5 separate regions of the Homo sapiens genome follow, and regions 2, 3, 4 and 5 are each linked to region 1. Evidence: fine-mapped QTL for protein levels in blood plasma. A gene starts in region 1. Each other region holds a variant in brackets. All regions are shown on one strand. Distances are between the middles of the regions.

Region 1 (5,983 bases):
AACATGGCAAAACCCATCTCTACAAAAAAAACCACAAAAATTAGCTGGGCGCGGTGGTGGGTGCCTGTAGTCCCAGCTACACGGGAGGCTGAGGTGACAGAATGACTTGAGCCCGGGAGACAGAGGTCGCAGTGAGCCAAGATCGTGCCACTGCGCCCCAGCTTGGGAGACAAAGTATGATACTCTCTCAAAAAAAAATAAATAAGTAAAAATTTTTTTAAAGAAAGATAAGATGAACATAGAGTAGCTACCTACGGAGATACTTAACCTTTTCTCTGTAGCTGTCTGCTTAGGAACAAAAGGAAAGGCAGTTTCTTGCATGACTCAGCTTCCAGTTTTTTTTTTTTCCTTCTGTCACAGTGAATTGGGGTCCTGAGTTTTTGTTTCTCTTTCATAAAGACAACGCAGTGCAGTTCATGCTTGACCCCGGATGTTCTCCTGATCAGAAAGCAAAAACGCAATGAGAGATGTCATTGGGACAACAGAGGAAAACTGGAAATGGGCTTCCTATTAGACAACAGTGCATCTGTGTAAACTACACGGGTCTGATCCTGGTCTGTGGTTACGCAGGACAAAGTCCTTAAGAATAATCTATATAGGCTGGGCGTGGTGGCTCACACCTGTAATCCTAGCACTTTGGGAGGCCGAGGCAGGTGGATCACCTGAGGTCAAGAGCTCAGGACCAGCCTGGTCAACATGGTGAAACCCTGTCTCTACTATAAATACAAAAATTAGCCGGACGTGGTGGCAGGCGCCTGTAATCCCAGCTACTCGGGAGGCTGGGACAGGAGAATTGCTTGAACCTGGAGGGCGGAGGTTGCAGTGAGCAGAGATCACGACACTTCACTCCAGCTTGGGTGAGAGAGCAAAACTGCATCTAAAAAAAAAGAGAGAGAGAGGAAAAAAAAGAATGATATATGCTTTTTAAAAATTTTTTTATTTATTTATTTTTTGTGATGGAGCCTGGCTCTGTCACCCAGGCTGGAGTGCAGTGGTGTGATCTCGGCTCACTGCTGCAACCTCCACCACCAGCTTCAAGTGATTCTCCTGCCTCAGCCTCCCAAGTAGCTGGGATTACAGTTGTGTGTCACCATGTCCAGCTAATTTTTATATTTTTAGTAGAGATGGGGTTTCACCATGTTGGCCAGGCTGGTCTTGAACTCCTGACTTAAAGTGATCCTTCCAAAGTGCTGGGATTACAGGTGTGAGTCACTGTGCCCAGCCCCCTTAAGAATAATCTTAAGAAGGTTCTTGCTGAAGCACTTAGTGGTGAGAGTTACAATGTCTACTCCTTGTTTTTAAAATTTAAGAATATTTTAAAAGCATATGTTGTGTGTGTATAAACAGATACAATAAAATGTGAAGAGTGGGTGAATCCAGTGAAGGGGATACTTGTGTTCACTGTACTATCCTTGCAACTTTTCTGCCGGTTTGAAATTTTTCCGTCTTTTTTTTTGAGATGGAGTCTTACTCTGTTGCCCAGGCTGGAGTGCAGTGGTGCGATCTCGGCTCACTGCAACCTCTGCCTCTTGGGTTCAAGCGATTCTCCTGTCTCAGTCTCCGGAGTAGCTGGGACTACAGGTGGCTGCCACTACACCGGGCTAATTTTTGTATTTTTTTTTTAAGTAGAGATGGGGTTTCACCGTGTTGTCCAGGTTGGTTTCAATCTCCTGACTTCAATAGATCCACCCGCCTTGGCTTCCCAAAGTGCTAGGATGACTGGTATGAGTCACCGCTCCCAGCCTGAAATTTTTCAAAATGAAAACACCGCAGGTCAGGAGTTTGAGACCAGCCTGAACAACATAGTGAAACCCTGTCTCTATTGAAAATACAAAAATTAACCAGACATGGTGGTGTGCACCTGTAGTCCCAGTTACTCGGGAGGCTGAGGTGGGAGAGTTGCTTGAGTCCAGGAGATGGAGGCTGTAGTGACCTGCAGTGAGCTACAACTGCACCACTGTACTCCAGCATAGGTGAGAGCAAGACTCTGTTTCTAAAAAAAAAAAAAAATTACTGGGCATGTACTGTATGCCATGTAGGTGGTGGAGACATAGCAGGAGATCAGACAAACACTTCCCTGTCTGTGTGGCAAATATTAAACTTGCAATAAACTTGCAAAGACAAATAAAGATAAAATTTATAGAGATGTCAAAAATAAACATATAATTGCAAGTCACATTCATTTCTCTTTCTCTGCTATTCCTGCTCTCGCCTTCCCTCTTCTGCTTCTCCTCTCTCCGTCACAGACACCCACAACGTCCCTCTGCAGTCACTGACAGATACCCCAGGTTCCTTCCTGTCTTCCTCCCCGCCACCCCAGTGTGTTACAGCTGATTTGTACAGCCCTGGACAAGCCCATGGTTAAATAGCTAGGGATTTCATCAGCCTGGTTGGCAAACTGTAGGTAGCTTAAAATCAGACATGCTATGAGTATTTACACCAGAGAAATAGGCCAACACTACGAGGCAGGATTTGTGGGTATTGTTTTTCAGAAAACTTGGTTTTTCAGCACAACACTGCTCTCCCATCGGCTTCCAGCAAATAAATGTTGCATTTTTCAGATATATCCTAATTCTTTCATAGATATTCAGTCTCTACTCCACCTCTGGCCAAGCCTTTCCTGGTGGTAGGAAACTGGGGACTTGAGTCCTATGTTGTACTGTGAGGGTAGAGAATAGAAGAGAAAGCATGAGAGAAAAGCATGAAAAGAAGAATCAAAAGAAAGCAATATAAGAAGGAAAGAGAAAGAACAGAGAAGTGGGAAGACAGTGGAGGGTAGAAACTAGGACCGGAAGACATGGGGACAAGCTGATGCCCACTGCACAACGTCCTCACAGGTAGTTGGGCCATTTCCCCATCTGGGGTACAGAGGTGGCCAGGGAGCCCATGAGAAATGAGGAAACTGCCTTCCCAAACTACTGGAGAAAGAGGGTGGGGGTGGTGATCCACATAGCTGGGCTCAGGAGGAAAGAGGGCTGGGAGTCTGGACCGGGGGAACCTCGGGTCAAGATGCCACAGTTTCTAACTATGGAGGGCCTGGGGGCCTGGACTCCTGGGTCTGAGGGAGGAGGGCCTGGGGGTCTGGACTCCTGGGTCGGAGGGAGGAGGGCCTCGGGGCCTGGACTCCTGGGTCTGAGAGAGGGAGGCCTGGGGCCTGGACTCCTGGGTCTGAGGGAGGAGGGGCTGGGGGGCTGGACTCCTGGGTCTGAGGGAGGAGGCACTGGGGGCCTGGACTCCTGGGTCTGAGGGAGGAGGGACTGGGGGCCTGGACTCCTGGGTCTGAGGGCGGAGGGGCTGGGGGTCTGGACTCCTGGGTCTGAAGGAGGAGGGGCTGAGGGGCTGGGGGTCCTGGACCCTCCATCTGAGGGAGGAGGGGCTGGATGCCTGGACCCGAAGGTCTGAGGAAGAAAGGGGGTCCCTGATAGGCCACTGCGGCCATTGAGACTTGGGGTGGGGCCCAAGCCTCCATTTTGCAAGGCCCTCCCCTCCCCACCCTTTTCTGGGCTGGCTGCTTAAGGGCTGGTATAAAGGACTTGTTTCCTGCTGAAAAAGCAGAAAGAGATTACCAGCCACAGACGGGTCATGAGCGCGGTATTACTGCTGGCCCTCCTGGGGTTCATCCTCCCACTGCCAGGTGAGTGATGAGCCCAGCCTGGAGGAGATTCCCTGGAGGCCGGGCAAGGGAACCCTGCTGAGATGGATTTGCTCTTGCCACTCCAGGAGTGCAGGCGCTGCTCTGCCAGTTTGGGACAGTTCAGCATGTGTGGAAGGTGTCCGACCTGCCCCGGCAATGGACCCCTAAGAACACCAGCTGCGACAGCGGCTTGGGGTGCCAGGACACGTTGATGCTCATTGAGAGCGGTGAGAAGGCCCTGGCGTGCAGAGACCCCGCCCTGTCCCCTCAGTCCCTTGATCCCTGTGCAGGGACCCGGGAGCCACCCCTCCGGGGGATCGACTCCTAGGGTCCCGGTGATCCCCTTTCCAGCCTCTCAGCCTACGCCGTGTAGCAGCGTCTCCCTCCAGGACCCTGGAGGCCTGACCTCCATCCTCGCTTGCCTCCCTCTTTCGGTCCAGGACCCCAAGTGAGCCTGGTGCTCTCCAAGGGCTGCACGGAGGCCAAGGACCAGGAGCCCCGCGTCACTGAGCACCGGATGGGCCCCGGCCTCTCCCTGATCTCCTACACCTTCGTGTGCCGCCAGGAGGACTTCTGCAACAACCTCGTTAACTCCCTCCCGCTTTGGGCCCCACAGCCCCCAGCAGGTGCCTGCGGGAGGGTCGGGAGGAGAGGGAGGGGCTGCTAGAAGGGGATCCGCTGAGCACAGAGGGGCTGTTACGGAGTCCCTCCCACCCTCGCTCGCTATCCCGACCCTCGCTGGCTCCATCCCTCCCCTGACTGCTCCCTGACCATCGCCCCGCCCCGCTCCCTTTCCATCCCTCCCCACTCACTCCCGATCCCTCCCACCGACCTGCCACCCGGGAATCCCCGCACCCCTCCTCTTCTAAGAGCAAACAGGACGGATTTCTGATATGAAATCACCATTAACTGGGTTATCCTGCATTCTTTTTTTATTCTGTTGCGTTTGGTTCAAGAAGTTCTCCTGCAGGGTTTTTGCTATTTCCTCTTCCTAAGGGAGACTGAACTGTAACTTTCCACTTTCCTTGTCTGGTGTTATAAAGAGTCTAGGGAGATATTTTGCGCTTCTTTTATTGGAACAGCTTGTGAACACAGAAGTCTCCTGTTCTTGGAGGTTTAGTAGCGCTTGCAGGTGAAGGCACTGGCTCGTTCCAGGGCACCCCCTCATTCCCTTGACCAATGAGTCTGCTTCTGTGTCTCCCCTCGGAAGGCCAGACTTTGTTGAAAGGTTCAGACTTGACCATGTCTGAGTCTACATTTGGCCTCAGCAGGCCCCTCCTCCACCCTGCCCACCCCCCACCCCCACTTGCCACCCAAGACACCCCCCCTTTTCTTTTCTTTTTTTTTTTTTTTTTTTTTTTTTCTGAGAAAGCGTCTCGCTGTGTCGACCAGGCTGGAGTGCAGTGGCGCAATCTCGGCTCACTGCAACCTCCGACTCCCGGGTTCAAGCGATTCTCCTGCGTCAGCCTCCCACGTAGCAGGGACTAGAGGAGCCTGCCACCACGCCCGGCTAATTTTTGTATTTTTAGTAGAGACAGGGTTTCACTATGTTGCCCAGGCTGGTCTTGAACTCCTGACCTCGTGATCCACCTGCCTCAGCCTCCCAAAGTGCTGGGATTACAGGTGTGAGTCACCACACCCAGCCAAGACCACTTTCTGTACCCAGCCCTGGGTGCCTCTACCCAGACCTCCTGTTCATTCTCCCTTCCTCTTTTATGGATTACACTTCTTTATTTTCCCACATCCAGATCCCATGATGGGAGCTGCAGAAGGCCCCTTTGGGAAGGCTGAGCAGGTTGACTCTTGAGGCCAGCAAAAGTGGGGTGCAGAGAAGGTATCTGATCAAATCCAGTGCCCTCTCAGTGCCCCCTCACTCTGTCTGTCACTTTCCTAGACCCAGGATCCTTGAGGTGCCCAGTCTGCTTGTCTATGGAAGGCTGTCTGGAGGGGACAACAGAAGAGATCTGCCCCAAGGGGACCACACACTGTTATGATGGCCTCCTCAGGCTCAGGGGAGGTAAGCCTGGGACATCGGGGTCCCTGTGGGGACTGAACTGGAAGGTCTGGGGACTGAGATCTTAGGCTTTGGGGAGTGAGGTGAGCTGAGGCACGGCATGAGACCCAGAGGAGGGTGGGCCTGGCTTCCTGGAGCTATGCCTGCCTCTGAGGGTTGGGTGGTCCTGGAGGCAGCATCACTGACTCTCCCTCGCTCCCCCTTTCTGCAGGAGGCATCTTCTCCAATCTGAGAGTCCAGGGATGCATGCCCCAGCCAGTTTGCAACCTGCTCAATGGGACACAGGAAATTGGGCCCGTGGGTATGACTGAGAACTGCGATATGAAAGGTGAGTC
Region 2 (5,983 bases), 16 kb before region 1:
CCATCGTGCTGAGTTTTCATCATAAATTAATGTTGTCTGTAGAAGAATTCCATATAAATAGAATCATACAATGTGTACGTTTTCCTGTGGGTTAAATTTTCTTTTGCTCAGCAAAATGTTTTTGAGAATGAAGTATTTTGTTGCCTCTATCAGTAGTTTATTACTTTTTTTTTTTTTGAGACAGAGTCTCGCTCTGTCGCCTAGGCTGGAGTGCAGTGGCATGATCTCTGCTCACTGCAAGCTCCGCCTCCCGGGTTCATGCCATTCTCCTGCCTCAGCCTCCCAAGTAGCTGGGACCACAAGCGCCCGCCACCACACCTGGATAAATTTTTTTTTTTAAATATTTTTAGTAGAGATGGGATTTCACCTTGTTAGCCAGGATGGTCTCAATCTCCTGACCTCGTGATCCACCCGCCTCGGCCTGCCAAAGTGCTGGGATTACAGGCATGAGCCACCGGGCCCGGCCTTGTTTATTACTTTTTATAGCAACATAATATTCAGCAGTGTGAATATACCACATCTGGCTTATTCATCCTCCTATTGATGGGTATTTTGTTTTAATATTTCCTCAGTTTTGGACCATTATTATTATGAATAAATCTGCTTTTAAAAATAACTTTGTGTATGTTTTGGATGGGCACAGTAGCTCATGCCTGTAATCCCAGCACTTTGGGAGGCCAAGGAGGCACTGATCCCTTAAGGCCAAGAGTTCAAGACCAGCCTGGGAGACATGATGAAATCTCATCTCTACAAAATAATAATAATAAAACAAAATAACATCTTTGTATGTGTCTTGTTATGATCACATGTTTCATTCATTTTGGGTAAAATACCTAGGAATGAAATTGCTGGGTTATGGAGTAGGTATATGTTTACTTGTATAAGAAAGGGACAGACTTTTCCCAAAGTGGTTGCATCATTTTACATTCTCAACAACAGTATATGAGAGTTCTGGTTGCTCCATATATCCTCATCAACATTTGGGGTCTTGTCTTTCTACTTTCAGGAATTTGGTTGGTGGGTTGCAACATTTGATTGTGATTTTAATTTGCATTTCCCTGATGACTGATGATGTTGAGTAGTTTTTTTCTGTGCATATTAGCTATTCGTATATCTTATTTTGTGAAGTTTCTGTGAAAATCTTTTAGTCATTATTGCATTCAGAACAAAGGATTAAAAAAATGCATCGCTTGAACCCCCGAGGCAGAGTTTGCAGTGAGCCAAGATCGTGCCACTGCACTCCAGCCTGGGCGACAGAGTGAGACTCCATCTCAAAAAACAAAAACAAACAAACAAACAAAAAAAAGCATGTGGAACTTTAGCATGAGTTGACTTCACTTTGGGCATGCTGTCTTTAGCAGTCACAAAAAAATGAATAGGCGGGTGAACTATTGTAGAATGTAAGAGATATAATAACCAAATATAAGGCATAAGTCTTGATTGGATTCCAGTTTTAAAAATACACATGGATAGCCAGGCGTGGTGGCACACACCTATAGTCCCAGCTACTCTAAAGACTGAGGCAGGAAGATCAGTTGAGCCTGGGAGGTGGAGGTTGCAGTAAGCTGAGATCCTGTCACTGCACTCCAGCCTGGATGACAGAACAAGATTCTGTCTCAAAATAAATTAAATAAATAAATACAGATGGAAAAATCATTTTGGAGACCAAAGGGGAAGACTGAAAAAGGACTATATATTAGATAGGGTTAGGGAGTTATTGTTTATTTTCTCAGGTGTGATCATGGGATTGTGGGCCAGTCACTCTGGGGAGAGGCACGCTAAAGCACTCAAGGACATAGTGTCACTCAAGGACACAGTGCCTTGATGCCTGCAATTTACTCTGACACAGTTCAGAAAAAAACGAGGAAATATGGCAAAATGTTAAACTTGAATATAAGGAGAGGATGCGGGTATTCTTGGTATTATTTTTTCCGCTTTTCTGGATGTTTGAAATTTTCATAATAAAAAGTTGAAAACAAAGGATGATGTGTAAGAAAGTAACTTGGTGGCATCAGAGGTCATGGATGGTGGCATTGGTGCAAAGACATCAAGGATGGGAAGGGTCTAGTTATACAAAGAGTAGATGAAAGACACCCCAGGCACAGGAACAGCAAGTGCAAAGGCCCTGAGGTAGGAACTAGCCAGCATCACATTGTCAGCCCTGCGAGTGACCTTCCTAGAAAGCAGACCCTTCAGGCCCAGTAAAGCTGCAGATGACTGCACCCTGACTGGCTTCTTTACTCCAACCTCATGAGACTCACCAAGTCACAATCACCCAGCTTCATAATAAAAAGCTGAAAACAAACACTCTTCAATTCCTGCCCCACAGAATTTGAGAGGTAACAAATATCTGTTGCTGTTTTAAGCCCTGAAGCCCTGGGGTAATTTGCTAGGCAACAATGGATAACTAATGCAGCTTCTGTCACATCTTCTAGGAAACTTCTTAACCTGCTCTCTCAGTACAAAATCCCCTTTCTCCATTTGGTTCCATGTAAACCTCTGTTCATCCTTCAAAATTCACCTAAAGGAGTGTTTCCCAAAATAGGGTTCAGGTGTCAGTGGCTGAGGGCATGTGAGATGATTCTAAGGGGTTACACACGACAGTTGTTAAAAAGCGTTACAGGCTATGCTTGTGATTAAGC[G/A]CCTATTAGAGAAAAATAATTGAAAATAGCATATTAATCACATGATTGGATAAACATTATTGTTTTAAGATGAGGCCAAAGAAAAACAGTGAGTTGCTTTAAGGAAAATTTTTGAGTAAATAGCAGTGCAAGTGCTATTCAGATCGTAAAAGTGGAACACGACTAAAATTTGGAAGCGCAGTGAGGAATAGCAGGAATTCCTCTAGGAAACCTTCCCTGCCGCTCCAGGTGGGCCAGTTTGCCCCTCATTCAGACCCCTAAATACCTAAATATCTCTCCACTTGGCGCTGGTGGAATGTGTCAGGATCCCATCTCTGGCTGATGGAAGTCTGTGAGGAGGCTGTGGGCTCTGCATCTGACCTGAGCTCCAAGTCTGCAGGGCAGGCCCTGGGGAAGGGGAGATGGATGGAAAGTGGGGAGTAAGGACAAGCCAGGAGCCCACACAAGGTGGAAGGTTTCGGGACCCACAGAACCTGCCTCTATTCTTGCTGCCTCATCTTGGTGGTGCAGGGGACCTGCAGGAGTGACCTTTGTCACAGAGGTCAACGCACACCTGGCTCAGGAGGTGGAGAAACTGAAGGAGGATTGGGGTAAAGGTGGAGCAGTTTCAGGTCCTGCTGCTGCTCCAGGCTGACCAGCCGAGCTAGCAGATGAGCAACACCTGGACCTGAGCCACGGAAGCTCCTGCCTGGATTTCCCCAGCATGAAATGCACAACGGCGGCTGCTTTGGGCAGGTGTGTCCCGCTCCCACCCTAACAGGAACCTACAGGGAAGAGAGTTCTGAGAGGTGTCGTTCAGCCTAGCCACAGTCATTGTCACCACACCCTCTTATGGGCCTGAGCACCCTTTTCTGTCTGCCCTTCCTGGGAATGAGAAGTCCCTGAGAGCGGGGATGGGTCTCATTCATTTTGGGGTCTTAGTATCATTCAGCATAGGGCTTGGCACAGAGCAGGAGCTCAGGGAGTGCACAGTGAATTAATGAATGATTCTTAAAGAGCCCCTACATTTAAGTAAGAAATCCATCCATTGAATAAGAAATCCATCCATCACAGGTTCTTCCTGTGTCCACCTGGGTGGGGAAAGATGGACTCATCAGTGGCCTGAAAGGGATCAAGTTAAGTCACCCCAAAATGTACCACGTTGGTATAAGGATTGTTTTGAGCTGAAGGCCATTGAGAATCAACAGATGCTGGAAGAGCACTGCCCTCTCCTTATCTACCTAGAAGCAGGGCATATATTTCCTTTTGGGAAGGTGTTTCCTCCCCAGACCATTAAGAAAAGCAACTCATCCTGGAGATGGCGAGTCCACACTGAGATGAGTATGCATAGACCGACCTCACTAACAGAACCTGCATCTCCATCAGTGCCCCAGGTATTTCCGGGTCACTGTCCCATGATGTATCACCCTTTGAAGAACAAGCCCCTTTCCTTTGTTAAAATGGTATATAAGCCCCACAAGTCTAGCCGTTTCATTTTTTCTTTTCTGTGAACTCCCATGCATGTAATAAAAATTCTCTGCCCTTTCTGTTGTTAATTGGTCTTTTGTTAGTTTAATTCACAGGCCTCCAGATACTGAACCTAAGTGGATAGAGGAAAAGCATTCCCTCCCTGAAAGGCAGTTTTCCAGACTAACAAACAAATGTCATAAGTATGTACATCTTCCAGAAAACGGAGTTGTCTAGTTACATAGTATGCCCTGGGCAATGGATTAATACATGTAACTTAGGCAATTCATCTGAATTTCAGATTTTTGAAGGCTAAGAGCTACCTTCACAGGACCAAGTGATGGTCTCTGGAGTCTGGGTGTTTTACAGAGCTCCATTGATAGAAATAATCTTTGCAAGAACATTGTAGGATGATGAATAGGATCTGCTTATATCTCAAGTTGTCTGGGAAGCGGGGACATTTGCTCCTTCTTATCTTGCTGGGATTTCTGTCACCAGCAGTTGGAAGGGACTCCAGTTTTAAGACAAAGGTTTACAGTTTCTTTGGCACCAAGAGCAAAAGAAGCATAAAACTAGGCAGAAAGGGGTATAATATTATCATGTTGAGAAAAGGAATATGGAAAATGTAACCTTTTGCATCTCCTGAGTTAATGAATCTATACTCTGAGAAGGGCAGAAATGAGAACCACCTCCCCATCTCTGCAATAAATTCCCTAGAAGGTTTGGATTTTAGCCAAGAAGTTTCTGCTTTCCTGGAGAATGTCTCTCAATTCAAACTCTAAACCCCAAAGCCAGAAAAGGCAAACGTTACCTTGTCTGGGCTTTAATCCAAGTTTTCAGTGGCTGGAAACACGGTTACACTCCTGGAGACAAGGTGGCCTTGGACACCCAGGAAGAGCCCTGCTCCCGGGCACACCTGGCCCTGGAGCCAGACCACCTGGGTTTGAACCCCAGCTCTGCACCTTACCAGCAGAGCTTCCTGTCTGGAAAGTGGAGATGATCGTGATATCACTGACCTCAGACTGTGGTTGTCTCAATTAAATTAACAATCCATGTTATGAGTGTACAAGTATCGGGCACAGAGCATTGACTCAATTAATACTGATCTGTAATGAATGGGGATTCATGCCAAGTGCTGATGATGTGCATGACATTAGTGCTGACTGCTGTAAGTACTGGAAGCCGTCATGATAATGAACAGTGACTTTCATCACAGTTCATGGGGTCCTTTGTGAAACATGAGGGGGCATTAAGCAGAAACAGCCAGCCCAGCCCTCTCCACCACCCTTTGAGGAGGTGTATCTATGCCTGGTTTACAGTGTGGAAACTGAGGCTCAGAGACGGGGACTGGATTGTGCACGGTCACCCAGTCATGAAGGCCAAGAAATGATGGATGGGATGCAGGCTGTGTGCTCAGCCCCCTCCCTGTGGAGCAGCTCAGGGGCGTGGGGCATCCAGTCGCCCTGAAGATGCTGCTCTTGTCTGTCTGCCTCTCTCTCTTTCCACCACACTAGGTCTCTGTTTCTGGCTCTGTCTCCTCTTCACTGTGTGTCTGTGGTTCACTTTGTGTCTTTTCATCTCTGTGTCTCCCTGTCTGTCTCTGTCTTTGTCTCTCTACCAATGGGTACCTTCTGTCTTTCCTTCCTTCTTTTCTTTTCTTTTCTCTTCTCTTCCTTTCTTCCTTCCTTCCTTTCTTCCTTCCTTTCTTCCTTCCTTCCTTCCTTTCTTTTCTTTCCAGAGTCTCACTCTATCACCCAGGCTGGAGTGCAGTGTCATGATCTTGGCTCACTGCAACCTCTGCCTCCTGGGTTCAAGTGACTCTCCTGCCTCAGCCTCCTGAGTAGCTGGGATTACAGGTGTGTGCCACCACATCCGGCTAATTTTTGTATTTTTAG
Region 3 (5,983 bases), 22 kb before region 1:
GGAAATAAGCGATTGGGGGGTTCTTGCCCCCTAGGAAAGCGGGACTTACCGCTAAGGGTGAAGGAGAAGGGGTTGAGTGGTACTTGCCCCTGCCCCAGGAAAGCAGAGAAGGGGTGGAGAGAAGGAGAGAAGGGGTTGGGGTACTTGCCCCACCCCCGGAAAAGCAGAGAAGGGGTAGAGACAAGGAGAGAAGGGTTGGGGTACTTGCCCCTTCCCCAGAAAAGCAGAGAAGGGGTAGAGACAAGGAGAGAAGGGGTTGGGGTACTTGCCCCTTCCCCAGAAAAGCGGGACTTGCCGCTAAGGGTGAAGGACCAAGACAGGCGTCCCTGCGTGGTCTGACACCTTTGAAACGTGGGTGAATAATCAGAGAGGCGTCCCTGCAATGATTAAACACCAAGGGAAAGCTGCCTTCCCAGTCTGTGACCGGCGCCGGAGTTTTGGGTCCACGGATAAAACATGTCTCCTTTGTCTCTCCCAGAAAATGAAAGGAATTGAAATTAAGAGAAGGGAGAGATTGAAGAGTGGAAAGGAGAAAGTGGTTGAGGGACAGTGAGAGAGGTTGGAGAAGAGAGTAAGAAGAGACCGCTTACCTGATTTAAAATTGGTGAGATGTTCCTTGGGCTGGTCGGTCTGAGGACCTGAGGTTGTAGGTGGATCTTTCTCACGGAGCAAAGAACAGGAGGACAGGGGATTGATCTCCCAAGGGAGGTCCCCCGATCCGAGTCATGGCACCAAATTTCATGCGCGTCCATGTGAAGAGACCACCAAACAGGCTTTGTGTGAGCAACATGGTTGTTTATTTCACCTGGGTGCAGGTGGGCTGAGTCCGAAAAGAGAGTCAGCAAAGGGAGATAGGGGTGGGGCCGTTTTGTAGGATTTGGGAAGGTAATGGAAAATTACAGTCAAAGGGGGTTGTTCTCTGGTGGGCAGGGGCGGGGGTCACAAGGTGCTCAGTGGGGGAGCTTCTGAGCCAGGAAAAGGAAATTCACAGGGTTAATCACTCAGTTAAGGTGGGGCAAGAACAAATCACAATGGTGGAATGTCATCAGATAAGGCGGGGCAGGGCCTTTTCACTTCTTTTGTGATTCTTCAGTTACTTCAGGCCATCTGGGCATATACATGCAAGTCACAGGGGATGCGATGGCTTGGCTTGGGCTCAGAGGCCTGACATTTCTCACATTTCAAAATGTAACAATGGTTTTCCAACAGTCCATTACCTCTTTCCAGCATTACCAGTAAAGTCCAAAGTCCCAAGTCTCTTCTGAGACAAGGCAAGTCCCTTTTGCCCATGAGCCTGTGAAATCAGAAACAAGTTATTTACTTCCAAGATACAATGGGGATTTAGGCATTGGGTAAATACTCCAATTCCAAAAGGTAGAAATAAGCCAAAAGAAATAAGATACAGGCCCCATGCAAGTCTGACACCCAGCAGCACAGTCTTTAAAACTAAAGCTCCAAAATAATCTCCTTTGACCCCATATCTCACATTTAGGGCACACTGATGCAAGGGTTAGACTCCCAAGGCCCTGAGAAGCTCTACTCCTGTGGCTTTGCAGGGCTCAACCCTCATGGCTACTCTCATGGGCCGGCATTGCGTGCCTATGGCTTTTCCAGGTGCAGTGTGCAAGCTGCCAGTGGCTCTTCCATTCCAGGGTCTTGAGGATGGTGGGTATCTTCTCCCAGCTCCTGGCCCAGTGAAAACTGTGTGGAGACACTTACCCCACATTTTGCTTCTATACTGCCCTAGTAGAGGTTCTTCATGAGGGCACTGCCCTTGTAGCAGGCTTCTGCCTGGACATTCAGGCTTTTCTATATATCCTCTGAAATGTAGGCTCCCAAGCCTAAACTGTTGCACTTTGTGCACCTGCAGGGTTACCACCACATGGAAGCTGCCAAGCTTTATGACATGTACCTTCTGAAGCAACAGGCCGAGCTGTACCTTGACCCTTTTGAGCCATGACTAGAGCAGCTGGGATGCAGTGAGCAGTGTCCTGAGGCTGCACAGGGCAGCAGAGCCCTGGGCCTGGCCCAAAATTTATTCTGTCCTCCTAGGCCTCTGGTCCTGTGATGGGAAGGGCTGCTGCAAAGGTCTCTGAAATGCCTTTAAGGCCTTCTCCTTATTGTTTTGGCTATTAGCACTTCGCTCCCTTTACTTATGCAAATTTCTGCAGCCTGCTTGAATTCCTCCCCTGAACATGGGCTTTTCTTTTCTACCACATGCTTTCCTACACACTTTCAGAAAACTGGATCTCATGAGAACTCACTATCATAATGACAGCACCAAGGAAGATGGTGTTAAACCATGAGAAACATTAGTTTATTTGCCAATGTCTGAGGTAGGCAGGTGAGGACAGCGTTTGTGCTGTTGTGGAAATGTGTTCTGAACAGGGACCTTGAAGTGAGGTGGAGGAGGTGGCCAAGGGAGAGAACACTCAGGACCCCAGATGGCTGCTGCTGCCCAGGACATCCCCGCCTCTTATGGATGTTACCCAGATTGTAGCAGGGAGAGGCTTCCTTTAAGTAGAGAGTAAACGGACTAAGAAAGCGATAGATGGCTCCACATGCCAAGAATGTTCTTTTCCTTTTCTCTCCCTTTTCTCCCTCTCCTTTTCTTTTCATGATATCAAATGCCAGAGAGGCGTGCAGAGCACGTAGGGGGCCTTCCTTGCGTTGCTGCTACCCAAGCCTGCCTGGGCTGTAAGTTCCCCC[G/A]GAGCACCCCTTTGCCCCCACCTGTGGCATGGTCGGCCTCTCTTGGGCCCAAGCCTACCCTCTGCTTCCTCAGAGCGGGTCTCAGACCAGGCAGGGGGTTTCCCAGGAGTCCCTGGGAAGGTTTGTTTTCTGCAGTGCCATGGTGACATAAATGGTTGCTTTCCTTATCATTTTTCAATATTTAGTGGCCACTGATTACTGCCTTAGAAACACGGAGCAATTGAGGTTTTCCTGCCCCTTTCCAATTCCAGTTCAATGTAATTTTCCTGCTGTGACTCCTGTCCCTCTCTGATGTCCTCTCCCCTATTCAGGCTTCAACAGAAGCCTTCTATCCCCTCTCAAAGCTCCGTCCTCCCCAGGAGACACCAGCCAGTCTCTGTGCTTCCTCCTCCCACCCTCTCCCAGGGAGTCCTCCCTCACCTGTGAGCAGGAGCCCCTGCCAGGGGATGCATCCTCTGCGGGGAGGGGCTGAGGGGGGCCTCATGGTCTCTGCTGCCTGCTTCTCTTCTGTGGAGAGGAGCTTAGCTCCAGGATGATCAGAGCTACTGTGACTGCCAGTTCTGCTGTCTTTCCTCCCTCTGTGCTGAGCCTTCTCTCAGGGCAGGAGCACTTCCTAGGGCCAGGGGCAGGGGCGGGACTCTGCCCAGGATGCTTCTCTGTCCCCTCCCCTCTCAGTCCTGCCTTCTGGTTCCTGCTTCCCCTTCCCTTCTGTGTGTGTTTGGTCCTTAGGACCTGCTGAGGCCATTTGCCTTCTTCAGATATGGCTCTCCTTCCACACTTGTCCACACACACACACATATACACACACAGAGACACACACAGAGACACACACAGAGATGCACACACACATACACACAGACATGACACAAACACAGACACACATATATACAGACATACAGGCAAACACATATACACATATATACAGACATAGAGGCAAACACTCACATATACAGACACACACACATATATACTCAGATTCATTGAAACTGAGACACATGTACACATACAGATACACAGAGCTGTCACAGGACAAACTAGCACAGATAAAGACTTCAAGTGGCTTTATTTGCCGTCCTAAAATCGGGCGAGACTTCATCCCATGAGACAATACGTGGGTCAAGGAGCTGAGCAGAAGCGCGGGTTTAATAGAGAGGGGAGGGCTGCGGAAAGCAAACACAAAAAACAGGGCCACTCGGGAAAGGCTCATGGAACAAGGGAGAAATCTCTGATGGGGGAGAATCAGGTTCCTGTTTTAGAAACGGTGAGAGCAGAGGGGAGGTCATTGTCATGCGATTGAAACTGGCCTGTTTGGGAAATCGGCTATTATCTTTCGAAGGTCAGGTAGCAGCTCAGTTTTCCTTTGGTGACCTGTGACATTGGGGAAGGACTGCATTGTGCTGTTGGTCTGGTCTGTTGGGGCCTGGAGCAGGAGCTCAGCCACTGCCATGGCCTCCTCTGACTGCTGTTTAGCAAAGCTCTCAGGTGGGGCTGATGGCGCTGTCCTGGGGAGGCCCTTTCAGTAGCAAGGCTGGTGCAACCCTGTCCCCTGGGAGGATGACCCGCCCTCCCCAGGGCTGACCTCTGCTATCTCCTGGCCTCAGGTCTGTCAGCTCCACACACAGAACCCTGGGGATCCAAACCTGGGGAATTCTTTCTTTGTGATGCAGAAACCCAGCTGGCCAGGTCTCCCCATGCTCTTTAGTGCTTGGGAAGGTGGGATGATGCCCAGCAGGAAGGTGACAGAGGTGGCTCTGGGGGATAGAAAGGAGCTCACTGGGGGATGACTGGGGAGGGACCAGCCCTCTGTCTCCAGTGTCACCAGCCTGGCCTCTGACCCAAAGAGACCCAGGCTGGACTCAGGTGGAGCTCCAGCTCCAGGGTGTGGAGGAAGTTGTCCTGTGTGTCCTGGGTAGAGAGGACTGTGGTGGAGGGAGGTGGGTGGCTCTGAGCCCTGCTGTCCTTGGGGAAGGCTTCATGGAGACCCTCCCTTTCTGTGTCTGTTGGCTGAGCTGTGGCTCAGGGCCTGTCCATGTTCTCCCTATGTTCACCCCTTAACCTTGCAGGTGGTTGGGGGGGCGAGAGAGATAGAAAGACTGTGTCTGTCTGTGTGTGTGTGTGTGTGTGTGTGTGTGTGTGTGTGTGTCCTGTGGCTACCACACCTTCCCCATGGGTGATGCCAGGAGGAAGTGGGGAGCTGCACAAAAACCCTTGGCAGAGCAGGCACCATGAAGGAGCAGGCACATGGCAGGGACCAGAAGGGTCATTTGGGGCAAGGGCTGGAAACCAGGCTCCACCTCTACCTCCTTAGCAAAGCCAGGTTCCTGTCCAGGGGAATCCATTTCCTGAGTGTTATCTGTGTGTGATGTCGCCCCCTGGAGGGCAAGAGGAGACTTGTGGCCTTGTCAGGGGCTGCCCCAGGGACACTGACCAGGGTCTGCATGGTATGAGCTGGCCCTGACCCCTGGGCAGAAGTGGGATCTGACCTCCAGACTGCAGGGTCAGGTCACCCCAGGTCCTGTTCACTGCAGGTCCCCAGGCTGCCCAACTCCATGCAGTGCAAGATGAGCCCAGGGAGAGGACAGGAGTTATCCAGAGAACAGCAGGTCGAGATTCAAGAGAACTGTCCACCAGGAGGATGGGCTGCCTTAGAAGGAGCCACCTGTCCCCAAGGTTTCAAAGGAAGGGCTCAGGGAGGTATCTCTGGGGGCTTTAGAGAGAGGATGCCAGCCTGGGAGGTAGGTGGTCCCCAGAATGCCCTGTGTTCCTCCATCACAGCACTGGGGGTGCTGCCTCCAGGTCAACTGTGTCCCTGTCTGATGCCCACTGTCACTGCTGTTACTCAATATTGTACTGGAGGCATTGGCCAATGAAATTGGGGTACAGATACGAATAGAGATATAAGACTTAGAAAGAGGGAGAATAAGCTATACCAATTCACAACCAATATGTGATTATATATCTAGGAAATTCCAGACATAGTGAAAAACTAATCAATGCAAGAATTTAATAGAAAGATGTAAAGTTAACATAAGGAGGTTAATAACTTTTATACACAGAAACAATACTCAGATAGAAGGTGTAATATAAGACCTCTTTTATTATGACAATATAAAGATAAAACACCTGGGCATACCCTTAACAAGAAATTTGTAAAACCTATACGAGAAAACTCTTAAAACACTCCTAAAGGACACAAAATTCATCTTCAAAAGATGAAGAGACACATTTAGTTTCTTTTCGATCACTTTATTATGAAAATGTTCAAGCACACAAA
Region 4 (5,983 bases), 220 kb before region 1:
ACCACCTGTGAACATTTGGTAATATCTAGAGGCGTTGCTGGTTTCCACCATTGGGAGTGGGTGCAACTGGCATCTAGTGGGAAGAGGCCAGGGATGATACTGCACATCCCATGTTGCATAGACCCCATCCCACAGCCAAGAATGATCTTGTTAAGTGTCAGTAGTGCTGATGGTGCACAGACAGTGTCCCACAGCAAAGAATAATCTTTTTAAATGTCAATAGCATCAAGGTTGGGGAACCCTGGTGTGTCTGAGAAGGAAACGTGGGATTCTCTCTCCTCTAGGATTGGATTCTGTCCCGTGGTACTGTCTACAATGACTGGGATTTTGATACCTAAATCTTCCCTTAGGAAGAAATCTTTCCTCAGGAAACTTAATTATCCTGCCAATGCTCACCAGCTGGAGTTTGACTTCATATTTTTATTGGTTTCCTGGAAACCTCTCATTGCATTCCCTCAGGCATCCACGATACCCAAACCATGCACATGAGTGACACACTGTGTTTAGCTTGCACAGCATCTCATGCCACAACCATTCCCGGCAGATTCAGCTCATTCTCCCATCGCAGCCCTGCTCCCCTATGCCCGGTTACCAGCAGGTCTCCCAGGTGAGCCTGCTGCTCCAGGATAAAACTGTGGCCACGAGCCAACACTGAAAACTGACACCTGCGGAAGTTGGCTCAAGTGCTGCCTGCTAACAACCGAATAAGTAAACCTTTGCTGCAGAACCTACCATGTAACAGGTGTCTTCTAATATTTCTCTGATTTTTCTGAGCTTATCCTAAGATAACTTTTTCACACTTCATTTGCAGAGCAGGAAGACATTATGTGTGTGTGTGTGTGTGTGTATACACACACATATATATGAGAATATAGAGAGAATATATGTAAAGGAGAATACATGTAAAGAGAATATATAATATATATAGAATATATCCTATATATTTAGAATATATAGAATATAGTTATTCTATATATAGACTATAGACTACATTATAGTCTATATATAGACTATAGACTACATTATAGTCTATATATAGACTAGACTACATTATAGTCTATATATAGACTATAGACTACATTATAGTCTATATATAGACTATAGACTACAATATAGTCTTATATAGATTATATATAGAATATATTATTTTCTATATATAGACTATTTTTCTATATATAGTTTATATAGATTATACATAGACTATATTATTCTATATATAGCTTATATAGATTATATATAGACTATATTATTCTATATATAGCTTATATAGATTATATATAGACTATATTATTCTATATATAGCTTATATAGATTATATATAGACTATATTATTCTATATATAGTTTATATATATTTTATATAAAGTTTATATACTGTTTATATATTGTCTAGACTATGTTATTCTACATATAGTTTATATATAGAATGATATAGTCTGTATATTGTCCTAGCAAACTCATAGACTTTATTATTATTTGATATATAGTCTAGTACTGATAGATAATATTATCATTCAATAAAATATATAGACATATACAAGATACATAGTCTAGACTATACATCAAATGATAATATAGTCTTTCTGTACTACTATATATAGTCTATATATAGAATAATAATATAGTCTATATATTGCAAGGAGGAAGATAATGGCTCATTTTTTATCCAGGGTAAAACTCATAAACATGTATTACTGAGTACAGATATCTTAATAGAGACAAGAAAATTCAAATTATTGGCAAGGTACTGTACATAATTGTATCCAAAAAAATCAGGCTATTTTGCATCCTAGCCAAGTTACTCTGCCCAGTCACAAGATCACAAAGGCCAAGTTACATGATCACTAAAGGTGGCATGAGAGGCTCCGACTCATCCAGGGAGTAAGAGAGTGAAGTCAGCAGTGGGAATGTTGGAGCAGCTGGTCTGTGTAAAGATGTCCTGGGGAAAAACTGGGTCAGGCTTGGAAGACAAGGCAAGCGGTACCAGAGAAATAAGCTTGACTGGAACGAGGCAGCAACAGAGGCACTGATGGAACTCCGTTCTAGAGTTATGGGAACTAAAAGGTACTCCGCTCGGCCAGCCACCAAATGAAATGGGTAAAAAGGGCTGCTTGAAATGTAACTGGGAAGATTTCATAAGCATCTATCTGTATGGGTTTGCCCGGACTGACATAACAAAGTGCCACAGACCGGGCCGCTTACCACAGACATTGATTCTCTCGCAGTCCTGGAGGCTGGAAATCTGAGACAAGGTGTGAGCGGGGCTGGTTCCTCCTGAGGCCTCTCTCCTGGGCTTGGAGATGCTGTCTTCTCCCTGTGTTCTCCCATGGTGGTTCCTCTCTGTGTAGGTCTATGTCCTCATCTCCTCTTCTTATAAGGACACCAGTCCTGTTGGATTAGGGCCCACTCTAGTGACCTTGTTTTACCTTAATCCAATCTTGTCCATTCTGCAGCCCTAGGGCCACATGCAGCCCAGGACAGCTTTGAATGTTGCCCAACACAAATTCATACTTTTTTAAAACATGAGATTTATACACGGACCTG[T/A]TTTTTCGCTCATCAGCTATTGTTAGTGTATTTTATGTTTGGCCCACAACAATTCTTCTTCTTCCATTGTGGCCCAGGGAAGCCAAAAGATTGGACTCCTTTGCCTTAATCACTTCTTTAAAGGCCCTACCTACAAATACAGTCACATTCTGAGGTCTTGGGGGCTAGCACTTCAGTGTATGGTATGGGAGAGGGGGCCTCAACTCAGCTCATAACAGCATACTTCTAATGGTGGTTCTCAGTCTTTATTTTGAGGAAAGTGGTCACTTAAATAATGACATATGGAAAAGATACAATTTAAGTAATAGAGACTTCCCACGCAAACCCCATGTAAGGGGAGGAATCGAACGTATCAAGGGCATTCCCCAAGCCCAAGGTGATAGAGGTGAGAAATGCTCACTTATTAGTGCCAATTTCAATCTCCTGATAGATTTTCATTTAGTATGCTGTAAAAGAAAATATCCCTGCAGACACTGGCACTTGAGGGATTACAGTGGTGGGGAGAAATTCCCTTATTTATTTGTGGAATTCAATGAAGCATTTCAGAGTCCACCTTCTGGGGATAACCTGTTCATTGCAATGGAGTAAATCAATAGCCTTCATTTAGATTCTTAACTGGCAATTTGATCTCATTCACTTTAACCAGCACTCATTGGCTGGAGGAATGATGGAGACTGGGAGCAGGCTCCTAAAAAGGGTCTTGAAAATGTTATTTCAACAAAGATTAATTATGAGGCATTGAGAGTTTCAGAAAGGTTCACATTTTTTTTCTAAAGCTCTTCTAAGCCAATCTTAAATGAATCCTCAGAGGACTATTTCTGTGGGTGTGTGTCTGCTTGTGTGTGTGTGCATGTGCATGTGTGTGTCTTGCCCCATTCCAGTTCTCCATCCCCATGCTGAGGAGGCTGGAGGATTCAGAATGCAGAATCAGGTGCATTTTTAAAAAATCATTATGTCAGTCCTCACCAAAACACTGGCTATTTCTATCTTTCCTTCTCATTTTACTCTGCTATAGGAGTCTAAGTAAATCATCTTTAGGAAATACCAAAACCTACCAGGGGTTTTAGATTCATGGCGGCCAACACAACCTAGTATTGATAGCCCATGTAAATGTTTGCCATCCAGATAACAAGAATAACGACAAGAGAAAACTAACATGACCTGCCCCATAGTGTGCTAGATCCACATCTCTTGGGGAATGTTTTGAAGCAAGTTAATACAAGCTACTTGATAAAAGGCTTCCGTGATGAAATGAGATTGGGGAAGCTGAGTTAAACAAAATCAAACAGTGTTCTGTGTTGGACACTTCTCAAATCCTTAACCATGCTGAAAAGCTTAGAGTATTTCCAGGAGAATAGCATAGCACCCCACATCCCAGACCTGCACAGCCCCTGCTCAGGCCATCTTGTGGGACAAACAGTATGCAAAACACACATTCTGGAACATGCTTGAGTAGAGGGGAGGCCACTCTCTAACTTGGGCACAGTTCTGCTCTGGCACACACTGACAAGGTGACACTGGGTGACTCATTTAGTCCCTCTGTAAACGGCCCTTCCTCATATGCGAGAGGCCATGGAACGTTGGCCTCTCAGACGTTACTGGCTCTAACATTATTTTGCCAAAAATAAAATAATTAGTGTGGATGTGTTATAGGAAAGGGGTCTGGATACAGACCCCAAGAGAGGGTTCTTGGATCTCACCAAGAAAGAATTCAGGTCGAGTCCATAAAGTGAAAGCAAGTTTATGAAGAAAGTAAAGGAATAAAAGAATGGCTACTCCATAGACAGAGCAGCCGTGAGGGCTGCTGCTTGCCCATTTTTATGGTTATTTCTTGACGATATGCTAAACAAGGGGTGGATTATTCATACCTCCCCCTTTTAGTCCATATATGGTAACTTCCTGATGTTGCCATGGCATTTGTAAACTGTCATGGCTCTGGTGGGAAGGTAGTAGTGAGGATGACTAGAGGTCACTCCCGTTGTCTTCTTGGTTTTGGTGGAGTTCCACTGGCTTCTGTGCAACCTGTTTTATCAGCAAGGTCTTCATGACCTGTATCTTGTGCCGACCTCCTGTCTCATCCTGTGACTTAGAATGCCTTAAGTGTCTGGGAATGCAGCCCAGTAGGTCTCAGCCTCATTTTACCCAGCCTTTATTCAAGATGGAGTTGCTCTTGTTCAAATGTCTCTGACAGATGTAATAGGTAACGCTCAGAAACTGGCATCAGAGGCTATGCAACCTGAACAGAATTGGCTGACATATATCTCCGGGTATAAAGAAAGTCTCAGCTTTCCCCTGAGATGTAATGATGAATGTCCCTAAAGCTTCCTTCACCCTTCCATGCTAAACTCGCTCCACTGTTCCATCATCTGCTTTGAAGCCACAAGGACAGCCAGTTAGGACTTTGTCATCATCACTTTTAACTTTTGTTTAACTTTTAACAAAGATTGGCCTTTTTAAAGGCTCAATTATATTTAAAAAAAAAACAAAACAAAACTTCCTGCCACTTACGCAGTCCATTCATTTTAAACAAAGTTGATAATGCAAGTCAATGGGAAAAGAATAGTCTTTTTCAACACATGGAATTGGAAAAACTGGATACCTATATGGATAAAAATGAACTTTGATCCCTTACTCCATACTCTGCACAAGCATTAAATTAAGATCAACTGAGATTTGACCTGAACATAAAATCTAAAATTTTGAAGCTTTTACAATAAAGCAAAGGTAGACAAAGACTCCTTCTACAAATACCTGGCACTAAACATTAAAAAATCATAAATTGTGCTTCATCAAAAATACATCTGCTCTTCAAGATAGATGAAAAGGCAATTCACTGACTTTGAAACCAAGTATTTGTGTTCAGAATATGTAAAGGAATTCTAAAACTCAACATAAAAAGACAAAAATAAAACAAAAACACACGCAAAAAAAAAAAAAATAGAAAATGAGCAAATTATTTGGACAAAAATCTCCCAAAAAAGGAAATGCAAATAGCTAGCAATCACAGGAAAAGTTGCTCGATATTATTAGTTATCAAGGAAATAAAAAGTGAAACCATGAGATACTCCTACCCATTAGAATGGCTACAGTTAAAACGACTGACAATACTAAGTTTTGATGAGGATGTGGAGCAATTGGAATGCTCATGTATTGAGGTGAGAATATAAAATGGTGCAACTACTTTTAATAACTACCCTATGGCTCAACAATTCCATTTATAGATATATACCAAAAAGTTATGAAAACATATATTCATCCACACAAAGACCTGTACACAGATATTCATTGTAGCATTATTCATGATAACTTCAAATGGAGCAGAACCCAAATGCTTACCAAAGGATAAATGGATAAACTTACTGTTACATATTCATATAACGACATACTACTAACAGATAAAAAAAGGAATAACTATTGTTACCTGCAATGGAAACATATAT
Region 5 (5,983 bases), 19 kb after region 1:
TTCCTCTGGGGATGGGCACAAAGTGTGAGCTATGCCGTCCCCACCCTTAAGCCCAGAACCTGTGCTGTGGGGATGAGGTTCTTGGTGTTTGGTGGATGGTGTCAGGCAGACTCTGTCCCTCAGAGCTTGTTCAGGGGGTCCAGGTGCAGATGGCCACATGGATAGGGAGGACGGCGACGTACCTTACCACAAGTGGACTGAGTCTCCCAGCACTGGCCTGGCTGCACACTGTACCCAGCCCTGCCCAGTGTAGGCAGAGCCCGGGGCTAAGCCCCTGGAAGGCGTCATTTTACAGGAGGACTACCCGGCCACTGCAGATAGGCTGGCCACACAGGACACGTCCCATCCTGGAGGGGACTGGGCTTTGTCCTCACACGGATACGCACACACTGGGGGTTCCAGTTGGCCTTCCCTGGACCCTGCTCAGTGCTTCTGTGAACAGCGCCTTTCCTGTGGCTCTGGAACCCATGCAGGGTTGCTTCCACTGGGGACACGTGTTAACGCAAAGAATGGGGGGTAATTAACTCACACCCATGGAACCCACTGACCGTCTCAGGTGCCCCTCTATACAGACACAGCTGCTTCTCAGATTGGCGCAATGGCTCATGTGTGGCTTATCAGGGCACCGGGAGGGAGACCGTACCCCACCACCCACAGGAGGGGCCACACATCTTATAAACCAGCAACCAGGCTATCGGGTCACGCGCCCCAGGGCCAGATGCAAAGATCCAGGAAAGACAGGAAGAATAAGCGCGGCTCCCTCCCGTGACTGCACCTGCCAGCCCACTGAGAGAATGCTTGCTCTTTGTCCCCGTGGCCCTGGGCTGCTGTGGATGAGGAATCTCTTCCTAGTTCTGATCTGCAGGAAGCCATGACAGCCCTCCAGCCATCCTGTGCCCCTTGTGCTGCCAAAACAGCAGGCAAAGGAGACGTCACTCTGCAGTCGGGGGAATGGCATCTGATTACAGAGGGAGGTCGGGTGGCTGGGACAAGGAGGCTATTTTCGAAGGCAGGCAACTCATGGCGGTAACATTTCCTTGGCCAGGGCCCTGTTCCATGGAAAACTATAGAAACCCACTAAAGACAAGGCCATCCAAGACTCACTCTCCATAAGAATCAAGATTTGGGTTACACTGCAGGTAACAAATAACATCCAAAGGAGGTTTTGGAGGTGGGAGGACAATGTGGAATGTACTGGAAGAAAGCAGCTCTGAGCACCAGCAGCCCCGCCCCCAGGACCTCAGCAGCTGTATTGGAAGCCATCTCTTCCCCATCTTCCTCTCATTGTGGGCGAAGAACTGGTGCACAGCACAATGGGAGGAGGACATCACTGTCACCATCACACACTGTTACTGTGACAGAGGGAAGGACTGGAATTGTGTGTCGTCTGTACGGAGGACTCTGATTATTTTTTCCCCCTTGAGACAGGGTCTCGCTCTGTCCCCCAGGCTGGAGTGCAGTGGTGCAGTCTTGGCTCACTGCAGCCTTGACCTTCTGGACTCAGCCTTCTCAGTAGCTGGGACCACAGGCGTGCACCACCACACCCGGCTAATTTTTTGTTGTCTTAGTGGAGACTGGATTTCACGGTATTAGCCAGGATGGTCTCAATCTCCTGACCTCATGATCTGCCCGCCTCGGCCTCCCAAAGTACTGGGACTACAGACAGGCACGCACCACCACACCCGGCTAATTTTTTGTATTTTTTGTAGAGAAGCAGTTTCACTATGTTGCCCAGGCTGGTCTCAAACTCCTGGGCTCGAGTGATCCTCCCACCTCAGCTTCCCAAAGTGCTGGCATTACAGGCGTGAGCCACCGAGCCTGTCCTGGACTCTGATTTTCATCTGGACAAAGGGAAAGGGTGGATGCCGAGGGGCAAGGGAGTGAACGGTGCTAGACGTGTTCTGTTTCCTTCTCCAGATTCACTCTCTTCTCCTCTTCCCTTTCCTCTCCTCTGTTCTCTACTGTGAATGGCAGATCTATGGGGGCTGGACCAGTGGAGTCTCCTGCTTCTGTGGCCTCTAGGGGGTTCAGTCAATGGGGAACCTCAACTGGAGACCAGAGTGAGGACATCAGTTTGGAATTTTAGTTCCCCACTTCCCTCCCCAGTATCATTGCGGGCTGGACGCGTTTTTCAGCCTGAGATGGGAGCTCTTGTTAGGCAACCCTCTCTGAATATCTCTCTCTTTCTGTCTCCGGCTCTCTCTCCAGCTCTCTCTGTCTCTTTCTGTCTATGTCTCTCTCTCTCTCTCTCTCTCTGTCTGCAGATTCCAGCAGTGGCTCTTCTCCTCACCCTTTTTGGGCTATGGTGGTAAGAGATACCCAATGGTAACAGCTCTGGGAAAATGCTAACCCATTTTTTTCTGGAGTTCTCTTTAGCCCTTATGTCAATTATCCCACAATAGGCAGATGCTACATAGCAACGTTTGGGTCAGTGACGAATTGCGTATAGAACGGTGGTCTCCTGAGATGACAATAGTGTATTTATGCTGTACCTTTTCTATGTTTAGATGTGTATAGATGCACAAATACTTGCCGTGGTGTTACGATGCCTGCAGTATTCACACCATAACATGCACTGCAGGCTTGTAGCCTAGGAGCAGTCAACTCTACCATCCATCCTGGGTGTGTATTGGGCTGTACCATCTGGGTTGGTGTAAGTGCACTCTACAATGTTCCTTTCGTGATAAAATCACCTAACGACACATTTCTAACGACACGTCCCTGTCGT[A/T]AAGCAATGCATGACTATACTAACCTCTCCTGCAGTCGCTCAGATGGGGCCAGCCCCCTGTTTGTGCTAGGGCCCTGGCTGCTAGGCTGGAAGCCTCATACATCTCAGTGCATCTTCCCCTCCCAGGTCATGGTGATGCCCAAATACGTTTGGCTGGAGCACCCTGAAGTCTCTGCTACCATCCAAGCTGGTTTGGAGACATGAACCAGACCAATGAAGGGCAGGCTTTGGATGGCCATTTTCTCATTAGGTTCCTCTCCTCCACCATGCTAGATCCCTGGGCGTCCTGCTGTCCCCTTACATGGAGAAATCCCAGCACTGGGAGAAAGCACAGGGTCTTTATTATCAGACACATGCAGCCACTCCTCCAGTGTCCCCTCTCCCACAGGGCAAGTCCGGCTGCTCCAGGCTCTCCCCAGTGTTGCTATTAGGTGAGTAGATATGAATGATTATGTGTGGGGAAGATGATTCATGGACAGGATGGGGAAATAATCTGGTGTCCAAGGCCATTAGGTTACAAGCACAAGGGACGGTTGAGTGTGGTGGTGAGCAGCGGTGAAGAATCGTGGGGGAAATGGAGTTAGCAGGAAGGGCAAACCGCTCCCCACCACAGCGCTGGGGCCAGTGCCAGCCCCACCCCCCAAGTGAGACACTCCAGGCCCCCAGCCCCACCTCCCTCATGCTGAGAGGCAGGAGGCGGCTCATCACCCTTCTCACACACAGAGAAGATCCCAATTTGTCTGGTGTGGTTCAACAAGGAGCTGGAAGGTTGGGCCACACAGCCCTGAATGCTCATTCTGGTGGTCAGCCCACCTAGAGGGAGAAGACCAAGTCAGAAAGGACACAGAGTACAGCCCAGCCAAATTCATAAACCCAGGAGTCCAGGCCCCAGACCCTCCTCCCTCAAACGCAGGAGCTCAGACCCCCAGCCCCTCCTACCTCAGACCCAGGAGTCCAGGCCCCCAGCCCCTTCTCCCTCAGTCCCAGGAGCCCAGGACACCAGCGCCTTCATCCTTGGGGCCCTGCTTGCAGCACTCACCTCCTGAGAGATGAATGTACCCATCATAACAATGAGTGGCGCCCCTGGGGCAGGTCATTCGGGGGGAGCCACTTGAACAGGTTCCAAGGGGCTGCACACAGGTAGGACACTGCCGGTCTCCTGGGACAGGGGCAGCTGGGGAGCAGAGGGAAGGTGGGGGTACATGACTTTGTGCTCAGAGCAGCTGCCCACCTTGGGCCAGAGTCTCTGTGTGTCTGGGCCTCATTTCTCCACGGCCCTGGATCCCATACCTTGAGGAGGGAGGGAGTTCAGCAGAACGCTGCTGCTGCTGGCACTATTGCACAGGTCCGAGGAGCAGAAGTGGGTATAGGAGGCCACAAGCACCCCAGGAGGGGCTGAGTGGATGGTGGTCTTCTGGGAATTTTGAGCCCCAACAGCGCTGCAGCTTTAGGTCGCCACCAGGGTTGATGTGAGTCCTGAGGGTGAGAGGGAAAGCTGGGCTGGGGACTGGGCAGCTCCCAGGGCAGCAGGGGCTCCAGAGCTGGACTCCCTGCCCTTCACAATACCCCCCAGGCAGAGGGTGAATGCCCTGATCACAACTGCTGGGTCATGTTTAGTGTGGGGCAAAGACGGAGGCTGGGGCCTGGGTCCTGCCCGAAGCTCTGCCTCCTCCCAGTTCTCGCTCAAACGTCACCTTCTCCATGAGTCTCCCCTGAGCACTGAGCTTAAAATTGCAGCCTTCCCCTCACTTTTCCTATCTCCTTTTCCTTGCCAGATTTCTCTCCAGAGCTGGGATCTCCATTCCCCATACTTTGCTGCTTTTTGTTTGTTTGTTTCCTGTTTCTCAAGGCATATAAAGCTGCAGGAATACAGATGGGATTGGATCTGCGGCACCTAAAACAAATGCTGGATAAACATTTCCAGAATGTATGAAGCCACTGAGAGTCCTCGGTGTTGGCACGGTTCTCCACCCTGGGCAGGGATTACCGCATACGTGGTCACCCCTCCCCAGAAAGGCAGACACTGTCATTCCCACTGCTTCACCCCCAGTTTTCATAAGGGGAACCCAAGATGCAGAGAGAAGAAGAGTCGGATTGAAAATTGCAGATGTGAAGGGAGCTGAGCAGGAAATTCAGGGGAAAGAATCCAGTGGGGTGGAGGGAGCTGCCAGGGACTTGGGACAGGTGTTCGTCTTCTACCTCAGTCCACGTACCTACATCTATGAGCAGCAGCATCTCCTGACACACCTGCCCCACCTCGCACGTCTCGGTATTAGATGTGGCCCAATCAGTGGGTTCTTTACTCAAGTTTTCCTGCTTCTTCAAGGTGGTCCCCCGATGACAGGTCAGAACATCTGGGGAGAGGAAACCCAGGGTCTGTGTAAGCCAGGAACCCACCATGTCTGTCCCTCCACGTCCTGGGCTAGGGAAGGTGATCATGCTCTTGAGTCACACTCCAGGTGACCTGGCCACGGAGTCCCTCAACCACGGATTCAGAAGGGACTTGGGAGTCCAAACCCCACCCCCATTGTTCCCTGTTTCTGCTTGAACACCCGCAGGGACGTCCTCTCACAGCCCTGTGAGAACAGCCATTCCTTGCTTCAGCTGTGAGAGCAATGGAAGCTCTTCCTGAGCCTCTGCCCATCTCTGCTTCCCCATCTGAGCTTTAAGGTCCTCATTTCAATAATAAGGAAGGCAGCCTGAGACCTTTCTCATACCTTTCAGTTGCAAAGCCCTATGTTCCAAACAAGATGCGAAGGGCCAGGGTGGGCTGAGCACTGCCGCTGAGCACTGCCTCTGCACCTGGCTGACCTCATTGCTTCCCACAGATCCACCCATCTAAGGTTCCAGGGAACACAGCTTATCTGGGATGCCTCATTTCCCCACAGCACCCCAGCAGTAGGTGGTGTGATCACAATCAACACCCTCATTTGCAACAAGGGAAACAGAGGCAGGATTGCTCAGTAGCTGCCCATGCCACACAGCTTGTGAGTGGCAGAGGTAGGCTGGGAACCCAGGGACTCTGGACCCTCAGGGTCGGGGTTGGGAGCAGGAGGGAGACAGGTACTGAAGACCATCCTCGGCTACCTTGGCCCCGAGGCCCTCAAGGCTCTAGTGTGAAACCACAGCCCCTGGCCTCCCCTCACGGCCATCACAGAGCAGGGGGGATCGGTCCCATGATGCAGGGACTCTTAGACTGAGCCCCCAGCTTCCACCAACACATGCGACCTGCAGAACCGATGCCACCCTGGAGGG

The links. PIP is the chance, under the fine-mapping model, that this variant and not a neighbour inherited with it causes the effect. Sun 2018 read protein levels with aptamers (SomaScan).
Region 2: its variant is fine-mapped to the plasma level of the CD177 protein (Sun 2018, PIP 0.95).
Region 3: its variant is fine-mapped to the plasma level of the CD177 protein (Sun 2018, PIP 0.95).
Region 4: its variant is fine-mapped to the plasma level of the CD177 protein (Sun 2018, PIP 0.95).
Region 5: its variant is fine-mapped to the plasma level of the CD177 protein (Sun 2018, PIP 0.95).

The regions. Positions count from the first base shown.
Region 1 is chr19:43,350,133-43,356,115 of GRCh38, forward strand. It overlaps CD177 (CD177 molecule), which reads left to right and starts at 3,554. Exons shown (of 9, transcript NM_020406.4): 1 at 3,554-3,634; 2 at 3,721-3,861; 3 at 4,075-4,260; 4 at 5,529-5,651; 5 at 5,860-5,976. The coding sequence starts at 3,583.
Region 2 is chr19:43,334,596-43,340,578 of GRCh38, forward strand. No RefSeq gene overlaps it. Among named protein-coding and RNA genes, the nearest start is that of LINC03078, 6.1 kb to the left of the region's middle. The variant G/A (reference allele first, on the strand shown) is at 2,643.
Region 3 is chr19:43,328,215-43,334,197 of GRCh38, forward strand. LINC03078 (long intergenic non-protein coding RNA 3078) reads right to left here and starts at 3,294. Exons shown (of 2, transcript NR_186343.1): 1 at 3,130-3,294; 2 at 775-1,294. The variant G/A (reference allele first, on the strand shown) is at 2,710.
Region 4 is chr19:43,130,994-43,136,976 of GRCh38, forward strand. No RefSeq gene overlaps it. Among named protein-coding and RNA genes, the nearest start is that of PSG11-AS1, 21 kb to the right of the region's middle. The variant T/A (reference allele first, on the strand shown) is at 2,544.
Region 5 is chr19:43,369,434-43,375,416 of GRCh38, forward strand. It overlaps the pseudogene CD177P1. Among named protein-coding and RNA genes, the nearest start is that of CD177, 19 kb to the left of the region's middle. The variant A/T (reference allele first, on the strand shown) is at 2,729.